4 linked regions of the Homo sapiens genome follow. The protein of the gene in region 1 interacts with the protein of each later gene in a pairwise test. Each region holds a gene or a part of one and is shown on either strand. Other genes may lie near its edges. The genes, in order: ERMP1, KCNN3, CLDN9 and CREB3L1.

What was found.
Region 2: the proteins of ERMP1 (region 1) and KCNN3 interact in binary tests that used the Homo sapiens proteins (3 or more experiments, as listed by UniProt).
Region 3: the proteins of ERMP1 (region 1) and CLDN9 interact in binary tests that used the Homo sapiens proteins (3 or more experiments, as listed by UniProt).
Region 4: the proteins of ERMP1 (region 1) and CREB3L1 interact in binary tests that used the Homo sapiens proteins (3 or more experiments, as listed by UniProt).

The regions. Positions count from the first base shown.
Region 1 is NC_000009.12:5,784,071-5,788,154, forward strand, and holds the end of ERMP1 (endoplasmic reticulum metallopeptidase 1), read right to left. Parts: intron 3,524-4,084; coding exon 3,360-3,523; intron 3,239-3,359; coding exon 3,074-3,238; 3' UTR 502-3,073; downstream 1-501. UniProt on the Homo sapiens protein: Within the ovary, required for the organization of somatic cells and oocytes into discrete follicular structures.
Region 2 is NC_000001.11:154,769,253-154,776,290, forward strand, and holds part of KCNN3 (small conductance calcium-activated potassium channel protein 3), read right to left. Parts: intron 3,142-7,038; coding exon 2,723-3,141; intron 1-2,722. UniProt on the Homo sapiens protein: Small conductance calcium-activated potassium channel that mediates the voltage-independent transmembrane transfer of potassium across the cell membrane through a constitutive interaction with calmodulin which binds the intracellular calcium allowing its opening.
Region 3 is NC_000016.10:3,008,430-3,015,026, reverse strand, and holds CLDN9 (claudin-9), read right to left. Parts: upstream 2,105-6,597; 5' UTR 1,665-2,104; coding exon 1,011-1,664; 3' UTR 522-1,010; downstream 1-521.
Region 4 is NC_000011.10:46,315,640-46,321,925, reverse strand, and holds the end of CREB3L1 (cyclic AMP-responsive element-binding protein 3-like protein 1), read right to left. Parts: exon of another isoform or gene 5,641-6,286; coding exon 5,541-5,640; intron 4,566-5,540; coding exon 4,439-4,565; intron 1,663-4,438; coding exon 1,398-1,662; intron 1,217-1,397; coding exon 1,180-1,216; coding exon of another isoform or gene 1,029-1,179; 3' UTR 517-1,028; downstream 1-516.

The sequences.
Region 1 (4,084 bases):
TTCAGCTGCTTCACCTTGCATTGAACTGTTCTGAGAGAATTCACTCAAAGTTTAAATAACTTGCACAGAGATCTCTGAACTCAAAGTTCATGCTCTATTTTGGTGAGTGGTGGTGCCCTTTCCTTCTGTGGAGATTAGAATAAGCAATGAGTCACTCTGGCTGAAAGGCAACTTCTTCCCTCCCTCCTACCCTTACTCCCAAATAAAAGAACGCCCTTTACCCTTTGCTATTTTTTTGCTAATGGGGATGATTTAAAACTCCTACATAGGTGAAGCTCAACATTTACCTAATAATTTCTGTGAAATTCAGAAGTACCATTTCATTCTAAGATAAAGGATTCTAACTGAAGTAAACATTTCCATGTTGAGTTCTTTGCTCACATGAGCCATCTAGGTCTTTTAACAGCAATTAAAAGGCTCTGTGGACATGGAATAACCCTTGAAAATATGGGGATACAGAAGAACACAGATCTGTTTTTCAGTTAAAAAGATACCAACCAGTATATTAAACAGTTTATTTCAGTAACATTGTAAGGCAACAATTAATCCTCAGTAAGTCAGCAAACCAGTGACAAGAAATTGACAAACACTCCTTCTACAGCTTCCTGAGACAGCAGGCTGGCTTGTGGCCCCCTGGGTGGTAACATCTTAAGGAATCCTATCATGTTTGTTTATATATGCTAAACTGTAAAAACAAACACTTCATGCGACAATCATTCTTAGGTCAAACACAAGAACGAACTATTTTGAAATCAATTCCTCACACTTTTTCCCTGAATATGCAGTACTGTACTACTAACATCTAATTCTGTAGAAAATAATGCATTTGTTAGTGACTTTGTTAGAGCTTGAAAAGACCCTTTTAGAAATTATTTAAATGATCACTCTTTAAAAATTTTTTTTAATCTCAGAATCTACTAATGTGACAGACAAACGGTATGCTTAACAGAGTCATAAATACTGTGTATAATTGCTTGACCATTTCTGGCATTTAAATGACCTCCCAGAATATTACACAAGCCCTGAGACTAGTGAGCATCTTACTACTGACCTTGTACAATACCAAAGCTTCATAATGCTAAAGAAAACCAAAACAAAAGACAATGGTTTACACAGGGAAATAACCCTAAGGCAATATGAAAACAGTCATAATTTATTACTGATAAAGAGTAAAGGCATCCTTCCCATAGAGGGGGGGAATTCACAGGGAACACTAATTATATCAGATGAACCACGGGGATAGAAAATAGGCCCATTTTTAAAATTCATTGAGAAATTATTACTTTTTCTCCACAACTGTGATTCTATACAAAATATAAACCCTGCAAACCTTATGTGCTACCTGACAGATAAAAGTAGCAGGAGCCAGACTCTTGAAGCACTTGAGACTGATTTCTACAAAGTCCAGGAAGAGCAATGATTCCAGTGTGCAGTGCTGATGCATGTGTGAGCCTAACATGTTATTCAGCTCTGGTTGCAGCCCCATCTACATGGGCCCAGTTAGTTTTTAGGGAGTCACAGATTAGGCAGGCAACGAGGGGCATGATTTAAAAAGCACATCATACACATGAGACAAGCAGCTTCAAGGACGTTTTCTCCGGCAATGCATACTTACTGTGCTCTTTCTATTCAGACAGATCCACAGACCACCTTTCAAGAGCATTCCTCTCTCATTTCCTCCATCACCCAAGATAAATCTAGCCACCCTTTTTTGTTAACTGTGCCTTTTCTTTCAACTTTTTGTCCTTGTTAAAACTCAAAATTTGTCCAACGTTTCACATTTCCTAATGATAAAAAGAAAGCTTGCACAGTTTACCATTGATCTCACCAATGCCCTCACTGCTGGAACCAAAAAGCCATGAGAGGTACTGCTGTGATACACCTTACAAGCTACATAGCCATCTTCAAAATGAAAACCACCTTTTAAGTCCTCATGCTGCCATTACGCAGGATCTGAACCACCTACACGTACAGTGGTCTCATTCCAGTATAAGCCACAACCTCAAGTCTCAGGAAAGCCAGTCTGCTGGATAGTAAGTTACTGAGAAAAACTAATCTATTCAACTGGCTGGAAAACAAAAAGATAGGCCCAGTGCATCAGTAAGATTATACCATGAAGGACTAACCTTGTATAACACAAGACTCCTATGAAACAAAGAAAAGAGAATAAATATTTATAAAATTCCCACCACTCCCAGCCTTCCTTCTACCCCAGAATAGCCCAGATGGCAGCTCAGTGCTCTGAGGAAGGAAGTTAAGGTCATGTACTGGCACAAACAATATTCTGAACCAAAAGAACCTACGAAAACCAGAGGGGTATGTGGCCAAATATTCCCCTTTTCAACTTGGTAAGATGGAGAGGGGTAACAGACATGTTTCAGAGGAAAACAGGCATAGAAAACCACCTCAGGAAAGCAGCACAGCAGTGCATCTGTGTGTCCACTTGTCAGGACAGTGAGTCACCAGCTCAGCACAGGGTCCAGGCCTCAGCACAGAGAGACAAAGCACATTTGAGAGGCTGCCTGAAGAAACAGCTTGACACAGGCTACAGCCTCAAGAGTGCAATGCTTCTCTCCCAGCCCTATGGCAATCACTTTCCAGTGACCTACACAGAGTTATATTCTCAAGGGGAATCATTACCTCAGTGAATGATATTTTACCCACCATCCACTAATACAACAAATGGTTTTGGGGCTTAAATTGGAAACAACTTTTGTCTCATTAACAATGCTCTGACAGTGTACATCTTTCTTGATCCTAAAGGGGCAGCTATTGAAGTGGATTGTTGGCTTTGTCCTTAAGGTCATATAAAATGACGTGTGTGTAGTGGCAGTACCCACATGTGCTGAAGTGCCAAAAGACTGGCATTTTCAAGTGTCAACAGGCCATGCATCACTGCGCCACAGCTAAACCCTTATAGTGCTTGGCCCTGAAAAGCGTTAACCCAGAAAGCTCTTTGAACATATGATCATTAAAATTCATTGACTTACGTTACAAACATCCACGTAACATAGGGAGAAACCATGTCACATGGAGTATCCACTGGGCATGTACTTAGAGCTCATCCACAAGATTAAAATACAAAGAGATCGTAGGTGCACACCCAGGCAGAGGGAAATGTCCAATCTGGGAACTTTTCCTTCAGAGCATCCAGTTGAGGGGATCTCTTGTCTTCCCCAGACAGATAGTGGGCAGCAATGGCCACGGTGACCATTCCTTCAGGATGTTCTTCTGAAACCTGCCAGAGAAAATCAATTAGTTCTCCAGTTCTCAGAAGCCAGAATACTGAACCCAAGGTTCTTGCTAAATACCACCTGGGAACCTAATCAATGAAACAAACAATGCTGGGAAATTGGCACCTGCACTTCTATCCAGAACTGCCATGCAGAGGCCTGGAGTCCATGGGAGTAAAAGACAAAGTAGTCTCCTCCTTTACTTGTGACTGGGGTGCCATTGCCAAGAGACCACTGAGAAAGTGTTGACCCTTTGTGGGCTCGAACATAGAAGGACATATGGCTTGGTCCTGTAAGGTAAAAGGAAGAAAGAACAGTTAATCTTTTTAAAAGGATCAAAAAAATAACCCACAATCCAAACCAGACTTCATAAAGGTTCATGCCTGCATGACTTTAAATATACTTACTATAAACCTAATGGAGGTTTACCAGTTTGGACACTTAGTGTGAATCAACAAGGTTAAATAATGAGGTACAGGAGAAAAGGCACAGACTGTAAATGAGAAAGCCTGTGTTAAGTTGGTCCTATCACTTAACTGCTGCATGACATCAGGAATTTAATCTATGTCACAATTTCTTCATTGAGGGGATTATATTAGAAAAAGCATATGAAAGTGTTGGCAAAACTGCGAAGTGCTGTAACAGTACTGAATAGGACTGCCATTATGAATGGAGTTGTAATTTTCAGAGTTGATCATGTAACACCTTAAAATATGTTTTACTAGTTTTTCCCTTCAAGCTGGAAAATATTAGCTCAGTTCTGAAAATTTAGTCATCACTGGGAACTTCCAAGGAAACTGATGACAGTGGAAGTCAAACTAAAACTAAAATAGATAAAACTAAACAAAAAC
Region 2 (7,038 bases), on another chromosome or scaffold:
GAACTAGCACAGGGGTGCAACAATAACATCCACCATGCTTTAATACACCTCATGTTATACCTAAGTCTTTGGTCAAATGGCCTTTTCGCAAGAGAAGGGAACTTTCAGAGAATTTCCGATTTGCTCATTGTTCCTCTGTGCCTTGGTCTTAGCGGGGGCTTGTGACCCATGTCTGCAGAGAGAGAGAGAGAGACCCAGTGGCCCACCAGGGACCAAACTAACCCAGCCTCAGCTTGGAAGCTATGGAAGGCCATGCAATATCAAATAAGGTGCATCATCTAAGTACTTTGCAAACTACATTCTTTAAAACAAGCTTATTTTCCAGTGAAAAATAGTCACCCCTTCTTGTGATAGGTTCAATAAACTACGAAACTCACTTGCAGGTACTTTGTTGCATGTTCAGCCATCTGAAATACATGCCAGAGAGCATCTGAGGAAGTGAAAGACTTCAAATAGCTTAAAGGGCTACGCAAATTCAATTACTATGTTAATAGACAACATGGCTTCCATCATTTAGAAAGGAAAACAGGAAGAGTATAGGCCCATGTATGGTACAAGTTGGGCTGTTCTAATTAAAAGAAGGCAGCACAAAATTCCCAAGAGTTATCAAGGGATCTGCACTATTATTATTAACTTTCACCATCATTGGATTGCAGTACATAGTGCATATATACACCTTGTTTGACTCTAACAATAAATCCTGTGTCCAGCTTTCAGATAAGAAAATTGAGGTCCAGAGAGGTGAAGCGACCAGCACAATGTTGCTCAGCTAACAGTACCATGAAGAGTTTGGGGTCGGAACCCAAGCACATGCTTTCTCCATTGGGGGAAGAGTGTCTGCTTACCAGAGAAGGCTCATGAAGCCCTGTGCAGTGTGGTCCCACTCAGAGCAGATGTTGCAATGTCAGCTGCTGAGTAATGGCGAGGTTCTGAATAGGTGAGCATGGTGTGTCCCTGGGGCTCTGTGTGTGAGAAAGGTCTTCCAACACTGCACTGGCTCTCAGAACCTGAACCTGCATCCTGGAGCCTGAACCCTTGTTCTGCGGCAGCAGAATGCCCTCTCAGTTTGACCGTGTGTCTGTTGGCCAAAACGCTGAAAGAAATGTCTGCAAACAGAATGTCTCAAAAATAGGTAGGAGATACGATTCAAGGCACCCATGTAGGGTGTGTTGAGGCTAACTCCTCTCCAGACTTCTTTGTCTTGTTTGATCTCTGCTAGGACACTGGTGCATGGAAGATTTGGCAATATAATCGTAAGTGTTGACAAATTAAGGGCGACTACCAGGATTTGTGTAAATTACACAGGATGCTTCACCATACCTCCCAACATAATAAAAATAATCTATCTCAAGCAAACATAGCTTCATTCTATCTCAAGTGATCCTCATTTTAAAATGAGGAAACTGTAGCCCAGAGAGGTTAAGTAACTTGCCCTAGGTCTCACAGCTACTTAGGAGCAGAATCACGGTTTCTAACCTAGATTTAGACTCCACATGTCAAATAGATTAAAATGAATATCCAGGGCTGGGTGCAGTGGCTCACGCCTGTAATCCCAGAATTTTGGGAGGCCAAGGTAGGAGGATCACTTGAAGCCAGGAGTTCAAGACCAGCCTGGCCAACATGGTGAAACCCCATCTCTACTAAAAACACAAAAATTAGCCTGGTATGGTGGCGCATGCCTGTAATCTCAGCTACATGGGAGGCTGAGGCAGGAGAATTGCTTGAACACAGGAGGCAGAGGTTGCAGTGAGCAGAGACTATGCCACTGCACTCCAGCCTGGGCGAGAGAGCGAGACTCCATCTCAGATAAATAAATAAATAAATAAATAAATAAATAAATAAATAAATAAATAAATAAAATGAAAATCCAGGACCCCTTGCAAGGAGAAGAGTCATTAAAGGCAGCTCGAGGGTGGTGGAAGGAGGTGGCTTCAGTCCTGCCCTTGAGCCTTGTTGATGGCTGTTCCAAGGAGTTGGCATTTTGTTCTACAGCCCTGGATCTCTGTCAGGCCACATCTCCCTTCTTTCCCATGAGTAGCTTCTCTGAATGACTCCCAACCACCAGCCTCCTAAAACAATGTTTCCCAAAGTATGTTCCATCAGTACAGTGCTTCTCAAACTAAGGTGCATATGAATCACCAGGTGACCTTGTTAAATGCAAATTCTGATTCATTCATTCTGGGCTAAGGCCTGAGATTCTGGGAACTCTAACAAGTTCCCAGTGATGCCAGTGCTGCTGGTCTGTGAACCAAACTTTGAGTAGCAAGGTACCAATAGTGCTTTATAATAAAAAGGATTTGCAGGCAAATACAATTAAGAAAGGCTGAACCAAACAAAAATAAATGGTTTCATTACTTCAGGACTTCTCAGAGCCTTTAAAATGCTAATAAGCATTATTAATACCCAAGAGGAGTAAGTTGCAATGTGTTATATGTGAGTTACTGATGTAACCAGAATGCTTTGATATATTGGTTTGCAAAGAAGGAACAGAAAATCAGGAAAATTCTGTGCCTTTTTCCCACCTTACTTTGGTTCCAATGCTGCAATTCTAGCTCATACTGAACCCCAACTCAGCACTCCCCTCTTTCCCATTGTCTCCTTTCAGGTGTCTGGGTACATGCCTGTCTCCTCCATCAGACCACATACTTCCTGGCACCCCTACTCCTCCTCCCTTCCCTGTCCCAGCACAGGCTCTGTACTCAGAAAGCCCCATGTGGAATACCTTTCACAGACACGGACGGTCCAGGCAGCAATGATCCACAGAGAGATGCTGAACACGAGCAGCACAGTGCCAGGGCAGATGGTCATGAGCGTCTTCATGACAAAGCGGGTGTTGAAGTTGATCTTGTTGAGGGCCCCGATGCTGCGGGACGAGGCATCGGTGAAGAGCTTGCTGTGCAGCAGCATGACTCGGGCGATCAGGTACAGGCGCAGGAACATGGGGATAGACAGGATGATGTCCACATCGGCCTCCGCCCGGGAGGGTGTGTAGGAGAAGGCCAGGCGTGCCGTCCAGAAGAACTTGTACTCGCCAGGAATGGGGTGGATGGCGCACACCAGCATCTCCAGGCTGATGTACAGGATGCGCTCGTAGGTCATGGCTATCCGCCAGTCATCCGCGCCATTGTCGATCACGAAGAGCTGGTGGGAGCAGAAAGTCCATTAGTGTGGCCAGGACCAGGAAGCCCACAGCAGGGTCCAGGCAGGACAGGTGGGGCAGGCTGGGGCAGGCTGCTGGGCTCAGGTCAGCCTGACCACCTCAGCATGCTCTTTAGGGGCCTTGCTATGTGGCAAGAGCCCTGTATGTGGAGTAGGGAGAGCTGGATTCAGTCTACCTGGGAAGCCCTGGCTAAGACACTTTGACTCTCTTGGCCTCACTTTCCTCCTCTGCAAATCGCTGCCTGAGATATAGTGATTTATAATAAGAAATAATGTACTTGGTCTTTATCCTGGTTTAGGCACAGTTCCCAAAACGCTCGGAATTTCCAAAGTGATAAGTGTCATTTGTATGCTAATGAGATGACTAGTGGCTGGGGTCGGTCGGGGTGGGGATCCAGGGTGGCCTCAGGATGGCGCTGGTTGCCAGGGGAACCAATCTGGTGATGAGAGGGTTGGAACTTTCAGCCCCACCCCACCACCTCCTGAGAAGGAAGAGGGGCCCGAAGGTTGAGTTGATCACCAATGGCCAATGATGTCATCAATTATGTCGGTGTAATGAAACCTCCACAAAATCCCAAAAAGACAGTGTTTTGTTTTGTTTTTTTAACTTTTATTTTAGGTTCAGGGGTACATGTGCAAGTTTGCTATATAGGTAAACTCGTGTTACAGAGATTTGTTGTGCAGATGATTTCGTCACCCAGGTACTATTGGGTACAGTACCCAATAGTTATTTTTTCTGATCCTCTCCCTCCCACTCTCCACCCTCAGTGTCTGTCGTTCCCCTCTTTGTGTTTCGATGAGCTTCCAGATAGCTGCACACATGGAGGTCCCTGGACACGTGGAGTGTTGCGTGCCCAGAGAGGGCATGGAAGCTCCACCCCTTCCCATGCGCCCTGCCCTTTGCTTCGCTCCCATATGGCTGCTCATCTGAATCCTTTGTAAGGTCCTTTATAATAAACCAGTAAATGTGTTTCCCTGAGTTCTGTGAGCTGCTCTAGAAAATTAATGAAAACCTGAGAAGGGCGTCCTGGGAATCCCTGATTTATAGCCACTTGGTCAGAGGCTCAGATAAAACAACCTGGGGCTGGTGACTAGCATCGGAAGTCAGGTAAATGTGGTGGGACTGAGCCCTCAACCTGTGGGAGCCAACACTAACTCCAGGCGGACAATCAGGCTTGAGTTATATTGCAGGACACTCAGCCAGTGTCCATTGGAGAATTGCTTGGTGTGTGGGAACCACCCCCTCCTTTTTGCTGACCACAAGTGTTCTATGTTGAGCCACTTCCCAAGGTCCCTTCCAGCACACAGGTGCCAAATTGGCTGTTTCACGATGGTGAGAAAGATCAACTCATTTATATTAGAAACACATCCCTGAGCCCCTGCCAGACCTGAGCTGAGCCCTGTAAGGGGATGTAAAGATGAAAAAGTCATGTTTCCTGCATGAGTGAACTCACAAGGGCTGGCACAGATTCCTTCTCCCCACTCAGAGAAGGGGGCAGCAAGTGTTTGCTGGCAGCACTGTGCTCTCAGACAGTGCAGTGAAGTGTTCACGGCACGGACTCTGGAGCCAGATTGCCTGATCCTAACACTACTGGCTCCATGATCCTGGGCAAATTACCGAACCACCCTGTGCCTCAGTTACCTCATCTGGGGATGATGATAATAACTGCTGCATAGAGGTCACTGTGAGGCTGCAGTGGGTTCGTATATGCAACATGCATGGAATCCTGCCTAGCACCCAGCACACTATGTAACTATTAGCTATTCTTATTTGTAGCATTATTAATGGATCTGGTCTCGGTCTTTCTGTAAAATGACAGTTGGGCTCAGTGATGTCTAAACTTCCTTCTGGCCCTAAACTTTCACGAAGATGCTTCCTGCTGTCACCTCATGAGGATGGCTGTTCTCACAAGAATTGACTGAGCACCTGCTGTGTGTCCAGCCTTTGTCTTCCGGTAAGTCCCACTGTGGAGTCCCACCATATTTGATGACTGTGAAAGGGACTTCACATCCTTCCCCTCTGGGGCCTCAGTCTTCATCTGAGACTGAAATGAGAAGCCTCTAAAGTCTCATCCAGCTCCGATGATTTGATTCTTGGAGGGTGAGGCCTGAGATCCGGGCATATGTTCGGTGTGGGCCTCCTGTGCAGGCACCTCACTTCTGGGAGGTAGTGGAATGTTTATCATCACACTATGCCCTCTCTTTACTGGGTCCTTGGCCCTCCAGCAGATCTGGCTGTTGCCTGTCCCAGCTCATCCACGAACACATCCCACTCAAGACTCCAGCCTCACATGCTGCCTGCTCCACCAACAGCCACAGAGAGCTGCTGCTCTCCAAAGCTGGTTATGATTGCCTTTAAGGAGGAGCTAGCAGGGTCCTGTGGCCTAACATGAGCTCAGGATGAAGGGTACCAGCATCAGCACCTCCTGGCTGGGAGAGCAGGCCATGCATGCATCCTGGGAAGGCCTGAGCTGCAAGGCCGGAAGAAACTAGGCTGGGTTAGGAGAAATTAATGTTGGGGCCAGGGTTGGGTGGAGGTTTTATTTAACCTGGAAATACACCCTCAGCACAGAAAGCGTAACAGAGAGACTGGATCAGCGTGGATTTGCGGGGGCTGGCTGAAAGCCGAGTGAAGCCTTCCTTTCCTCCCTTGCACAGGGAGATCAGGGAATGAGGAGCCCTTTATTCTGTCCACCCAACTGTCTCCTTGATGGTCTGGGCCAAAGGAAGCTTCTGCTCTGCTTCAAAGTTAGTCACCAAGCAGCTTTCTCACTCCACTTTGCTGCCTTCCTTACAGTTCAGCAAGAACTGAGGACCCAGGAGAGGACCTATGGTACCAGGCCTGGTGTGGTGTGGGCGGGCGATGCTTGCCTTGCTTTTAGCATCTACCTGTGATATGTTTCTGCAGCAAGGGGAACATTCCAGGCAATTCATGGGCCCTGAGAGGCACAGACAGGGGAGGCAGCACTAGGAGGCAAGTCTCTTACCTTGCCGAGCCTCAGTTTCTCTTTCTCCCTGCTCCGTACCCTTACAGAGCCATACTGGAGAGCAGAGGAGACAATGGATTGAAAGGGTTTAATAAACTACAAAGGATCATTTGTTCATTCATTCATTCATTCAACAAAAATGTGTTGATGGCCCTCTGAGCAGCCAGCCCCCCACCCACCCACCCATGAGGATCCTGAAGGGAAACTACAGGGCACTATGGGAGCAACTGGCTGAGAGGCTCACCTGGTGGCTCTAATCAGGGAGCTGTCATCTCTGAACAGGAGACAGTACCCAGCACAGCACCAGCTGGAGACTCACCCTCCTCCTTCCCCAGTGCAGCTGAGCCTGGGTTTTTCCAGACATAGGTTTTCCCCAGCAATTAGAAAGCCCTAATGGCTGCTCAAAGGGTTCCCTCTGCTTCTAACTGCCGCCCGACAGGCCAAGCCATGGCAACGTGACTGCCTGGCCAAACTCTTCAAATACAAAATTAAAACCATCTACTCCGTAATAAAGAATCGCATCTGGTTACTATAGTAACTGGGTTCACTCTGGGCAGGAATGGAAGCAACGAGTAACAGATTCCTTTGATTGCCTGATGAGGAGTGGGATTGTAAGTAAGAGCTGAAGGGGAGAATGCACCGGCAGCTCTGCCCAGCGAGACGGGAGGGTGCTGGTCCCCAGCTGCCTCTCAGGTGCCCCGCCTTGGTTGTGGCTTGCTGGTGCAGGGAAGGTGGGGGCCACATGGGGTAGTGGAGCTGGAGGTGGGAGAGCTAGCCTGAAGTCCCCCACATCCAGGTATTAGCCATGTGATCTCAGGCCGTGCGTGACTTCTCCGAGCTTGTTTCCACATCTCCAACAGGGGAACACTGACTGACCTTGGCCCTGCCTGCC
Region 3 (6,597 bases), on another chromosome or scaffold:
AGAGTTCCTGCTGCTGCTGGGGGCTGGGCTTCCCTAGATGTCACTGGACAGCTGCCCCCCATCCTACTCAGGTCTCTGGAGCTCCTCTCTTCACCCCTGGAAAAACAAATGATCTGTTAACAAAGGACTGCCCACCTCCGGAACTTCTGACCTCTGTTTCCTCCGTCCTGATAAGACGTCCACCCCCCAGGGCCAGGTCCCAGCTATGTAGACCCCCGCCCCCACCTCCAACACTGCACCCTTCTGCCCTGCCCCCCTCGTCTCACCCCCTTTACACTCACATTTTTATCAAATAAAGCATGTTTTGTTAGTGCATTTGGTGTTGCAGCGGGTTACTGAGTGCCCACCCTGGCTAGGGGAAGAGATGGGCATAAGTGAGTCACGATCCCCTCTCCCCGTGGCTTGAGTGAGCATACCCACCAGGCAGAACCTAGAGCCAGACCTTGGCCTGACAGCCACCAAGGGAGGCCACCTGGCTGTGCCTGCCCAGCCCCAGCGGCGGCGCACAGATTAGAGGGAGCCCAGTTACAAATGCTCTTTATTTCCAACTCGAGGGTGGGGATGTTGGGGAGAGGGAGGTGATGGGCAGGCCCTCCCTGACAACTCCAGGGTTGGGAGGGCATGGTCTGCTCCCTGGTTTTGGAGCCAACGAGCTGCTGCTGTTTTGGTGAGGCCAGGGTTCCTGGGGCAGGGGAGGGCTCAGAAGAGAAGGAAGGCCAGCCAGTGTCCTGGGCAACGGAAGGAAACAATTACTGGGGAGGTGGGGGCAGGCCAGGGTTCCCAACACCTCTAGGCTGCCCAACTTGGGGGAGAACATCAAAGGGGACCCCACTGAGAAGAGCTCAGCCAGGCCAGCTGACCCAGCCCTGCAGCCAGGTGTAGCTTGGGCTTTTGGAAAGTGGGTTTTCCTGGGGAAGGAGGTTGTGATGGAGCAGGGCATCTGGTCATCAGGCCAAGGTCGAAAGGGCGGGGCAGTGGGGAGCAGTGGGCTCCCAGGGGAAACCTCCGCCTCACACGTAGTCCCTCTTGTCCAGTCCAGATGCACCCGAGCGGGAGGGGATGGAGTAGCCCAGCCGAGGTCCGCGGGGCCGCTCGACCTGGGGCGGGGGGCACGTGCAGCAGAGGAGCCCCCCGCCCAGCATAAGCAGTGCAGCCGCCGCCCAGCCCAGGTAGAGGGAGGCCCCCAGCTCCCGCTTGAGGGCCTCAGCCACCAGGGGGTTGTAGAAGTCCTGGATGATGGCGTGCGCCGTCCAGCACACAGGGATGAGCACCAGGATGCCGGCGAGGAGGAGGATGACCCCCGCGGTGAGCACGATACGGGCCTTGGCACCTTCGTCCTCCACACACGTGGTACACTGGGCACCTGTGATGGCCACCAGGAGGCCAAGCAGGGCCAGCAGGAGGGCAATGACACAGAGGGCACGTGCGGCCTGCAGGTCCTGCGGCAGAGCCAGCAGTGAGTCGTACACCTTGCACTGCATCTGGCCCGTGCTCTGCACCACGCAGGACATCCACAGGCCCTCCCACACCACCTGGGCCACCACGATGCTGTTGCCGATGAAGGCGGTCACCTTCCACAGGGGCAGGGCGCAGGACACCAGGGTCCCCAGCCAGCCCAGCACAGCCAGGGTCATGCCCAGCAGTTCTAAGCCGGTCGAAGCCATCTGGCCCCTCGGTTAGGTCTTCTCAGCCCCAGGCGGCCTAGGTGACTCAGAGGGTGTGTCTGGTGTGCTGGGTGGGTGTCTCTGTGTCCAGCAGGAGGGGGAAGGCTTGTTGGTGTCCCCAAGCCAGGCCAGTCCTCAGTTCCATGAAAGGCGCCTCTTGAAAGGCGCCTCCTCTCCGTGCCTCTTGCAGGTGTTTCTGGTCCTCGCGGAGCACAAAGCAGACTCGTAGTCCCGCTCGGCTGAGTGGTGGGTGTCACCTCGAGGGGCCTCCGCCCATCGGATGCCCTGAGGGTGCTGCTGCTCTTACCACCCCGCTGTCACACCTGGGCTGAGCTCGCACAGGCCCTCCAGACGCACTGCCAGGCTGAGGACAGCCACGTCTCCTGCCGGCTGGCGCAGGTTCCCACTGAGCGACTCTGACAGTGCCACCTGGGGACTCTGCGGGCTCTCGGCTGCAGGCGGGGTTTTAAGGCCCAGGCAGGGGAGGAGCAGAGTGAAGTGCAGGGAGGCCGGGATAGGGGAGACCTGAGCCACGGGGAGGGTGCGGGGCTGGGGGTTCGTGGGCAGCGGATGGATGAGGGGCCTGGGGGCCAGCGGGGGATGCTGCGGCTGAGTGGGGACAGGGGAGGAAAAGCGTCCGTAGCATCTGTGCATGTGGGAACCAAGGGTAAAGGAGGGGAAGATGGAGGACAAGCTGAGGAAGAAGAGACGGATCGGGGGTCAAAAAAGTAACAGGCTCAGGACAGAAACACACACAGGGGGCGTCGGCTTGCCTTCCTGAGCCTCCTCCTTCCGCAGCCCCTCCCCAGCTGCCTCTGCTCTCCCCCAGCCGAGTTTCGTGATGCAAACATGCCCCAGCTCCCCGAGTATCGCACACTCCCGCCCGCCTGGGACTCTCTGGAATCTGATCCATCCCCCGTCTCAGCCCAGTGGCCCCGCTAGCTCCCGGGGGAAGGTCCCCGCCTGCACTGTTCCCCAGACGACAGGTGCCTGGCGCCCAGCTCAGGTGGCATCGCCCTGGCAACGGCCTAGAAAACTACCCCCCACTTCAACCTCAGCTCAGGTGCGCTCTTGCCACCCCTGCTGCTGAAACCGAGGCTGAGCTGAGCTGCCTAAGATCTCCAGAGGCCAGAGGATGAGGGGCCTGTTGTGGAGGTTGGGGGGCACTCAGGAAGGGGGATGGAGGCGGGACGGGCTGGGGCTGGAACCCAGGGTGGGGCACAGCCCAGGACCCGGTTATGTTCCATGGGTGGGTGAGTGAGTGGCCAGTCAGGCCTCCCGGGCCAAAACACCCCAGAGGTGGGCACGGGGGTTAAGTCCAGGGACTCAAGTGTCCCCAAGACCTGCCTTCCAGTTTGCAGGAAAGCCTTACCTCCGGAAAAACCCCCTCAGAGCCTGTGATTCCACTCATGGGGACAGCCTGGGAGTCCCACTGACCAAAGCTCAAATCCTGACCCCTACCTGGGACAGGTCATGGAAGGTCGAGGTCCTTAACCTCCTTTGGTCAAAGACCCACTTGAGAAACCCCGTGGGACTCACAGAACATGCACCCACAAACATGTGCCCCTCATTTGTGGGGGAGGGTTCATGAACTCCTTCAAGCCCCTGCCTGGGTGCTAAGAACCTCTGAGGATTGTTGTCTGAAAAAGGGGTGTGACGGCCAGGTGCGGTGGCTCACGCCTGTAATCCCAACACTTTGGGAGGCCAAGGTGGGCGATTCACGAGGTCAGGAGTTCGAGACCAGCCTGGCCAACATGGTGAAACCCCGTCTCTACTAAAAATACAAAAAATTAGATATCCCAGCACTTTGGGAGGCCGAAGCAGGTAAATCGGAAGGTTAAGAGATCGAGACCATCCTGGCCAACATGGTGAAACCCCGTCTCTACTAAAAATACAAAAATTAGCTGGGCGTGGTGGCACAAGCCTCTAGTCCCAGCCACTCGCCACTCTGGAGGCTGAGGCAAGAGAATCACTTGAAACCGGGAGGTAGAGGTTGCAGTGAGCCAAGATCGTACCACTCCACTCCACTCCAGCCTGGCGACAGAGAGAGACTCCTCAAAAAAAAAAAAAAAAAAAATTAGCTGGGCGTGGTGGCGGGTGCCTGTAATCCCAGCTACTTGGGAGGCTGAGGCAGAAGAATCGCTTGAACCGGAGGCAGAGGTTGCAGTGAGCCGAGATCGCACCACTGCATTCCAGCCTGGGTGACAGTGGGAGACTCTGTCTCAAAAAAAAAAAAAAAAAAAAAGGAAAAGGGATGTGAGGAACATTGTCTCCATTCATACACTTTCCAGGGAGGTACAGAGGATCCTCAGAGTGGGCCCTCACCTGGGACTGCCTCTCACCTGCCTGGTGCTGGGAGGGCTGGGGTGTGCTGGAGCCCACTGGCCAGTGCGGGCAGGGCTGGAGGTGCCCACCACACACATCTGGTGGCTGCACCACTTCACGGCATTGCCTTCGGGGAGCCAGTGGCCAGGCACACCCCTGCTCAGTGCCCCTCACCTAGTGGGTGGGACATTGTGTATAAAGGGCTCTAACCTCAAGGAGCGGTCAGGGTTCAAACCTAGGGGTATGAGCATCGCTTCTGCGAAAGGGTTTTAGCATCTTTTGGGTCCGGGCACTGAGGCTCACGCCTGTAATCCCAGCGCTTAAGAGGCCAAGGTGGGAGGATTGCTTAAGGCCAGGAGCTTGAGACCCACCTGGGCAACACAGTGAGACCCCATTTCTAAAATAAAAAAAAAATATATATATATATATATACACAAAAATTAGCTGAGTTAGGTGGTTCCTGTCTGTAGTCCCAGCTACTCGGGAGGCTGAGGTAGGAGGATCTCTTGAGCCTAGGAGTTAGAGTCTGCAGTGAGCTATGATTATGCCACCGCACTCCATCCTAGGTGAGACCCTGTCTCTTAAAAAAAATGATACTTTTGGAAGAGAGATTTATACTTTCCTTCAGATTTGCAAAGGGGCCTTGACCCAAAACAGCTTAAGATCCTCCCCTGCAAACACAGAGACAGGCCAGCGCCAATCAGCTGGTCTGTAAGGTAAACAGAAGCCTGGCCTCCTCTTCACCACCCCCTGGGCCTCTCCACTGAGGGGGGCTCCTCCGGTACGAGGGGGGCTGACCTGGTGGCCCCACAGAGTCTGGAAGATGGGGGGGTGATACAGAGGCTGGAAAATGGCCATCAGTGGACTCAGGGAATCTTGTGGCAGGTTTGTCCAGCTCACCCAGCCCCTGGGGCTCAGATTTCACAGGGTTGGGGTGGGGAGAGCAGAGATTGCAGACGGAGGCAAGCCGGTCAGCGGGCTCCCTCGCAGCCTTCCAGGGGCCTCCAGGAATCCAGCCACACAGGTTTGGGCAGCTGTCAGGAGGCAGCAGCAAGCCTGCCTCCCTGGAAGTCCCCCCACCCAGCAGCCCCAACCCAGGGGCTATTCTCTTCCCTGGGCCGGAACAAGTCCTCCTTGTCCTAGGGCCTAAGGTGATCGGCTCATCCCACTTTTTTGAGGGACATTCCCAGCTTGAATATTGGGTCCTCCAGGGAAACCGGGACGGCTGGTCCACTTGCTGTCGGGCCCTGCCTCGGTGACTCACCGGTTCCACATTCAGCTCTAAACCCCTACGTTGTAGCCCAGTGGCGGGCTGCACACATCCAGTGAGCGCTGTGCCCGGAAAGGGCATAAGAGGACCCCAGGGGTTTTTTTGTTTGTGTTTTGAGACGGAGTTTTGCGCTTGTTGCCCAGGCTGGAGTGCAATGGCACAATCTCGGCTTACTGCAACCTCTGCCTCCTGGGTTCAAGCTGTTCTCCTGCCTCAGCCTCTCAAGTAGCTGAGATTACAGGCATGCGCCACCACACCCGGCTATTTTTTTTCTTTTTTTGTATTTAGCAGAGACGGGGTTTCACCATGTTGGTCTGGCTGGTCTGCGAACTCCTGATCTCAGGTGATCCGCCTGCCTCAGCCTTCCAAAGTGCTGGGATTACAGGCAAGCGCCACCGCACTTGCTCGGGGACCCCAGGTTTGTGTTTTGTTTTGTTTTGTTTTGTTTTTTTGAGACGGAATCTCGCTCTGTTGCCCAGGCTGGAGTGCAGTGATGTGATCTCGGCTCACTGCGACCTCTGCCCGCTGGATTCAAGCGATTCTCCTGCCTCAGCCTCCCGAGTAGCTGGAACTACAGACATGTGCCAACACACCCGGCTAATTTTTGTATTTTTATTAGAGACGGGGTTTCACCATATTGGCCAGGCTGGTCTCGAACTCCTGATCTCGTGATCTGCCTGCCTCGGCCTCCCAAACTGCTAGGATTAGAGGTGTGAGCCACCGCATCCAGCCGACCCCAGGTTTTTAAGACCCCAATTCCTCTTTGGCCCAACATCTCCACACCGGAGCAAGAAGGAAAGCAAGCCCACACTCCAGGGACTAGCCAGCAGAGTGGGTGGAGGCTGCTCAGCAAATGCGCACACCCCCACCTCAGTGACCAACCCACTGGACTTGCCTTCACAGTGGCCCTGTGCGGCTTCAGGCTCCTCCCACCCCAAGTCTCTAAGATAAAACACAGTATCTCCCCAAGCCCCTTGGGGAGAGTAAAAGTGGAGAAACATCTTGGAGCCTAGGAGAGGCTGGAAGAGGGTGGTTGGGGAGCTGCCCATGGTGGGAGGATTCCCAGGACACATGGGTAGCAATTAGCCTGTTGTCCTCAGCCCTCACTAGACCTAGGTTGGGAGGTCCTAGACCCTCTCCTAGGCCCCCGTGCACCTGGATTCAGTTGGATCTTGGGAAAGGAAGGGTTAAGGTTGGGGCCTAATCAGGGACTGGAATGCCATTGATATGGAAAAGTGGGGGCCCCTTGGTGTGGTTACCATCTCAATGGCACTTTAACACCTCCAGCGAAGTCCCCTCCCCCATCCACCACGTCTGGGAAAAGAGGTGGGGGAGGGG
Region 4 (6,286 bases), on another chromosome or scaffold:
ACAGTGAGTTATGATTGCACCACTGGACTCCAACTTGGGCAATAGAGCGAGATCTTGTCATTCATTCATGTACACATACATACATACATGGGGTTCTCCTTAAATAGGCAGATAAAAAACATTTATCTAAACTATCTTCCTAATCCTCAAATAAAAGCATACACATATAAAAGCTATAAATAAAGCCCAAAGACAGAAGAGGAAATAACAAATCAGTCAACAAAATATTGGAAAATAAAAAGTGAACAGGCTGGGCATGGTGGCTCACGCCTGTAATCCCAGCACTGTGGGAGGCCATGGTGGGCAGACTGAGCCCAGGAGTCTGAGACCAGCCTGGGCAACATAGCGAGACCCTACCTCTACAAAAAAAAAAAAATGCCTTCTCATACTCCTATACCCCCACACCCCCTGCCAGAACATAAAATCAACCTACCCTTGTTGTTCCCCTGCCCTTTGGTTCTACTTTCCCTCCCCTCCAATGAAGAAAGGCACAAAGTCAGGAGTTGATGCTGCATCTTTTTTTTTTTTTTTTTGGTTTTGCTTTCTTAAAGCATGTGCTGAGCTGATGAAGAGAGCAGTTTGGCAATTAAAAAGGCCCAGCGGCTTGGGCAGCAGCAGGGGGGTGCCAGGTGAGGGTCAGGTAGTCCCTCTTTCCTGGGCCAGGGAGCAGCAAAGCCCGCACTAACTTCATAAAATATAAAACAAGGGAGGGGCGAAGGGAAGAGGGAGATTTGTAAAATACAATATCTTAGGGGATTGGCAATAATAAAAAATAAGGTTCATTATTTACAAACAATTTCTGTTCTTGGTCTCTGTACAGTGGGGGTGGGGTAAGGGGTGTCTGTGAGTGGGGTGCGTTGATGTGTCTGTTTGGGTGCAGGTGTGGGGGCAGGGAGGCAGTGGTCGTGTTGGGCATATGAGAGAGGAGGTGGGGTACCCAGTGAGTGGTTTGTCTGAGAAGGACGGATGGATGTTGGTGGGAAGGAGAATGAGAACAGAGTGGTCGGCCCAAGGGAAGAGTCCAAATGTCAGGGGCAAGGAAGGGCTGGGAAGTGGAGCCTTTTCTCCTGGAATGGGAAGCTCCAGGAGGCAGGGGCACGAGGCGGATCCGGGTTAGTGAGCAAGAACTCCTCTTCTGGGTACCAGGGGTCCGTCCTATGTCCTGGGTCTTGGCATGGCCTAGGAGAGTTTGATGGTGGTGTTGGGGCCCAGATCCCTGGAGAGAGAAGAGAGGCCAGCGATGACTGTCCAGCAGGAACCCTCTTACCCTCTGCAAGCTGGATCTAGACCAAGTAGGGATGGGGCCTTGGGAGGGTGTGGCCAATGTGGGGACCAAGGGTGGGCAGGAGGCAGGTGGAGCCTGAGACCTCAGGAGGGAAAGGGGCCACACACCCCACCTGTCGTGGAACCACTCCTTGGAGTGGGAGAAGTCGGGGCTGGTGCCGTTTCCACCGTCTTTAGGCCAGGCCTCACTCAGGTACTTGGTGGTCTCGTGGGTGCTGTCCAGGTGATCATGCTGCAGGTGGTCCCGGGGCCGCTGCTCTGCCGGCCCCCCGGGGTTGATTTCCCAGCCATCTGGGGGCTCCATGGGCAGCAGGGTGCTGCGGCCATCTTCCCATAAGCCTGCCCCGTCATCGTAGAATAGGAGGCTTCGGGAGGGCACTGGAGAGGGAGTGTAGGATGAGCGGTGTGCCCAAGATTCCCTCAACATCCTGGCCACATTCATGGCCTAGTGGTTAAGGACGCAGGCCCTGGATCTGAGTCCCAGCTCTGACACTTCCCGGATGTGTGACCTCAGGTAAGCCACACACTTTGCTTTAAACTTTCTGAGCCTCAGTGTGCTCTTCTGTAAAATAGGGATACTAGGACCAACCTCATGTAAATGAGAGGTTTAAATGAGGTAATACAGGGGAAGTGATTGAAACTGTGTTCAGGAAATACTCAGAAAAGTCACCTCTTCCTAGCAGAGGGTACTGAGTTTGGGCATCTGGGAGCTGTGTTCTAACCTCCACCACTTACTTGCTCTATCTCCCTTTTTTTTTTTTTTGAGACAGAGTCTTGCTCTGTCGCCCAGGCTGGAGTGCAATGGCAGGATCTTGACTCCCTGCAATCTCCGCCTCCCGAGCTCAAGCGACTCTCCTGCCTCAGCCTCCCGAGTAGCTGGGACTACAGGTGTGTGCCACCATACCTGGCTACTTTTTGTATTTTTAGTAGAGACGGGGTTTCACCATGTTGGCCAGGCTGATCTTGAACTCCTGGGCCTCAAGTGATCCTCCCACCTTGGCCTCCCAAAGTGCTGAGATTACCGGAGTGAGTTACCGCACCCGGCCAGTCCACCACTTACTTTCTGTGAGACCTGGAATAAGTCTCTTCCCCATTCTAGATCCTAATTTGCCCTTCAGAGAAGGAAAACAAACATTTGTTGGACACCCATCATTTGTTAGGCATTATCCAAGGCCCATAGACCTAAGTAGAGTGGTTAAAATCTTAGAGAAACTCTAGGGAATGAGGTTTCTTTAGCCCCGCTTCCCAGAGGAGGCAGCTGAAGTTCCAGGCACTCAGGGAAATTGTCCTCCCTGAAGGGAGGATGCGAACCCAGGTCTGCCTGGCCCTGGGATCTGCTGCCCCTCCGGCTCTGCAGCCATGACCTCATAGTCTGTGTGAACAGAGGTCCCTGGAACTGCGCAGTGCGCCAGCTCTGCAAACCAGCCTGCTCCAAAGCCATCTGCCTGCTGGGATGTGTCTTCCTCTCCACCCAGCCCAGGTCCTGGGCCTAAAACCCACTGCCTTCCCTCCAAGGGGCTCATTCATTGCCTCCTCTCACTGTGGCTTTATCCATCAACCCCAGCTCTCTTTCCACTCCTTTTTCTCCAGTGGCTTCTGTGGCCTTGGAAAAGCAGACACATGGCTCTCCAGACCTTGCATTGCTGCTGCCCACCCGCCTTTAGTGACCACCCCGTTCTCTCCTCCTCAGCCTGCACGTGTCCGGGGAGGAGCTTTCACTCTCCCTGTCTCTACTTCCTCTTTCCCTAACCCTCCCCACACCAGCTTCCTCCCCTCAAGGCCCTCAACGTCTAGCTCATCCTCCCTGCTATATCCCTCCTTCTTGAAACTCACTCCTTAATCTTCCCTCCTCTGACCTCCCATCTGTTTCCTCTTCCTCCTCCTGTCCTGCCAGACACGTGGTTCTTGGTAAGTGACTGACTGGTAAGTGATGAGGGACAGCCAGGAAGTTCCTCTGTGGGTCCACCTGAAGGATTCTCTGCGTCTGAAATCCACACTCTTCTTTGCTGGGCCCTACCCTGGTTCTCCCTTTGCCAGCTACTGTGATGTAGCTATTCTCTCCTCCGTGAGCTCTAAGAGACTGAGTGTGCTCATTTCATAAGCACAGACACTGTGCTATTTCATGCACTGTCTCACAGCCATGGCTCAGTAAGTGCAAAATTGCCACTCCCATTTTCTAGATGAAGAAATGAAAGCTTAAGACACATGCCCCTGGTCACACAGCAGGTGGCAGTGCCAGTTACGATGGACTTGACATCCCCATGCTCCTAACCACTGTACGTTTACTATCCCCCTTGGAAACAGTAGATATCTGAACCCACACCACCGCTACCCTTCTTCTGTCCATGGTAGACATTATCAGTGGATCATGACACTCCTTCCTGTCAATTCTGAATGGTGCCTCAGGATCCTTCTTTTTTTTTTGAGATGGAGTCTCACTCTGTCACCCAGGCTGGACTGCAGTGGCGTGATCTTGGTTCACTGCAACTTCTGCCTCCCAGTTTCAAGTGATTCTCCTGTCTCACCCCTCTCAAGTAGCCGGGACTACAGGCACATGCCACCATGCCCAGATAAGTTTTGTATTTTTAGTAGAGACGAGGTTTCACCATGCTGGCCAGGCTGGCGTCGAACTCCTGACCTCAGGTGATCCACCGCCTCGGCCTCCCAAAGTGCTGGGATTACAGGCATGAGCCACCGCGCCCGGCCCAGGGTCCTTCTTAACTCAGTGTTTCAGGCAGCTACCACCACCTTATTGGAAATGGCTTTTGAGCTGAAACTCACTTGCTGTCCCTATCATGAGATACTGATGGTGCCTAGCAGATGCCCCATAAGCACTGGCACCATAATGCATGGGGCCCAGGGCTGGAACATTCCTGTTATCCCCTAAACCCACCTCCTGCAAGCCACTCCTGAGCTCTCTGGGAGCTAGGCTGGGCATCGGGAGCTCTGTATTTTAGTCCCAATTCTACCACAAACACTGAGCAAAGCATAGACTCTCTTTGGGCCTCGGTTTCCCCATCTGGAAAATGAGGCAAAATGAGATAATGCTGACCCCACACTTGGCTTCTCTCTTATGTCTGGCTTCTGCCTGGACACTGGGGCTGGGGCAGGGCAGCCTCAGCCCAGGGAGCTGGCATGACAGGCGGGCACTCACTCTGGCTGGCCGTGTAGACGCCGTCTGCGGCCAGGGGGTCTTCCTTCACAGTCTGGGAGCCGGAGGAGAACTCGGGAAGGCAGGGCACGAGGGAGCCCAGCACCAGAACAAAGCACAAGGCTGCCACCTGGTAGCAAAGAGAGAGTGGCATCAGATCTGGGGTAAGGAGGGGCCACGGCCCTGACCACCCCACTCCTCCTCTCCCAAACCAACAGGCACAAAAGTCTTAGCGTTTTCCCAAGGAAGCAGCTGCTCCAGTCGACCACTCCCTCCTACATGTGGGGTCTCCTATCCTCTCTGGGGAAGGCAGGGACAGCCCAGGCCATCCCAGCCCATTGTAGGGGGGTCGCCACAGGCAGTGCTAGAAGTAAGAGGGAAGTGGCCAATGTGGAGTCCCCTTACGGGGTAGAGGAATCAGGAAAGGAAGGAATAGGTGCAGGTGGGGCTTGGGGCTGGGACGAGGGAGGGGGACACACCGCCACATCACGTTCTCAGCAGGATTCTGAGGAGCCTGGCTAGCGGGAGGTGCTGAGAGCCACGGAGCCCACACTACCCCTGCCCATAGCCTGGTTCTGCTGCCTGACAGCTCGAGGGTCTCGGAGGGCCGGGGCATGCTGAGCCAGGCGGCAAGAGACTGGCCATTTCCAGAAGAAGATAGAAGAGGGACTGGAAGAGGTCTGAAACACGCCCTGGGAGCCTTCCGGGTTTCCAGGGGTTTCCTCAGCCTTTTCACTGCCATCTGTTCCAGAAAGAACCATGTCCGTTCTTCCCTGAGTCTCCCCAAGCCCTTCCCTGCACAAGGCCTGTGGAAGCCGCCTCCTCAAGGAACCTGCCCAGCTGTCCCCTAGCTGGGGCCACTGGAGTCACCTACACATCTACACTGTGTTAACCAGTCGGGGACCGGTGTGAGGCAGAAGGCACCATGGGCTTGGAGAAGGAGTCTGGAGTCTGCTAGAACCAGCCCACCAGGCGCCAGGATGGTGTACCCTGGGACGCTGCCCACGATGTTACCGATCCTTAAAGCTCTGCCCAACCCTGGAAAAAGCCAGCCTTGGGAAGAACTCTCCTCCTGTGGGTCTGTGGTGGAGGGAGCCACACCTACCATGAGGCAGGTCCCAGTCTGGGTGGCGGCCATCTTGTAAGGTCTGGAGATCTTGTTGGTGACCAGAGTCTGGAGTTTCTGCAGCTGCTGGAGCAGGGTCCTGAGGAGGGCACAGCAGTCAGCTGGCAGGCTTTGACCCCGCAGGCATCTCTGCCTCCTGGAGCTCTCCTAGGGGGCTGGCTCCAGACTTGGCCTCCACGCCAGGTGCCCGTTTCAGTCAAGATAGGAAAGGTCACCTCCTGCGTGGCTCCTCTGCAGAGTGGCCTGGCGCCTGGGGCCTGCCTCATGGTGACTGGCTGGGTCACCTTGTGGAAGCTCAGGCCTGCCCTGTGATGCTCCTGGCCAAGGGGGTTGGAGGAGGGAAGGCCTGCCCCCAGCTGCACAGATGCCAGCCTTCTTTTGCTTAACCGACACCTGCCACAGTTTCACTGACCTTCCCTCCCTGGCACCCCCAGCACCCTGAGCTGATAAGAAGGAGCTGTTTGGCACAGTGCCTGGTATGTAGTGAGTGTCTAGTAAATGGTAGCTATTGTTTTTGTTAGGTTTTTTGTTTTGTTTTGTTTTGAGACAGAGTCTCGCTCTTTCACCCAGGCTGGAGTGCAGTGGTGCGTTTGCGACTCACTGCAACCTCCGCCTCCGAGGTTCAAGTGATTCTCCTGCCTTAGCCTCCTGACTAGCTGAGACTACAGGCGTGCGCCACCATGCCGGCTAATTTTTGTATTTTTAGTAGAGACGGGGTTTTGCCA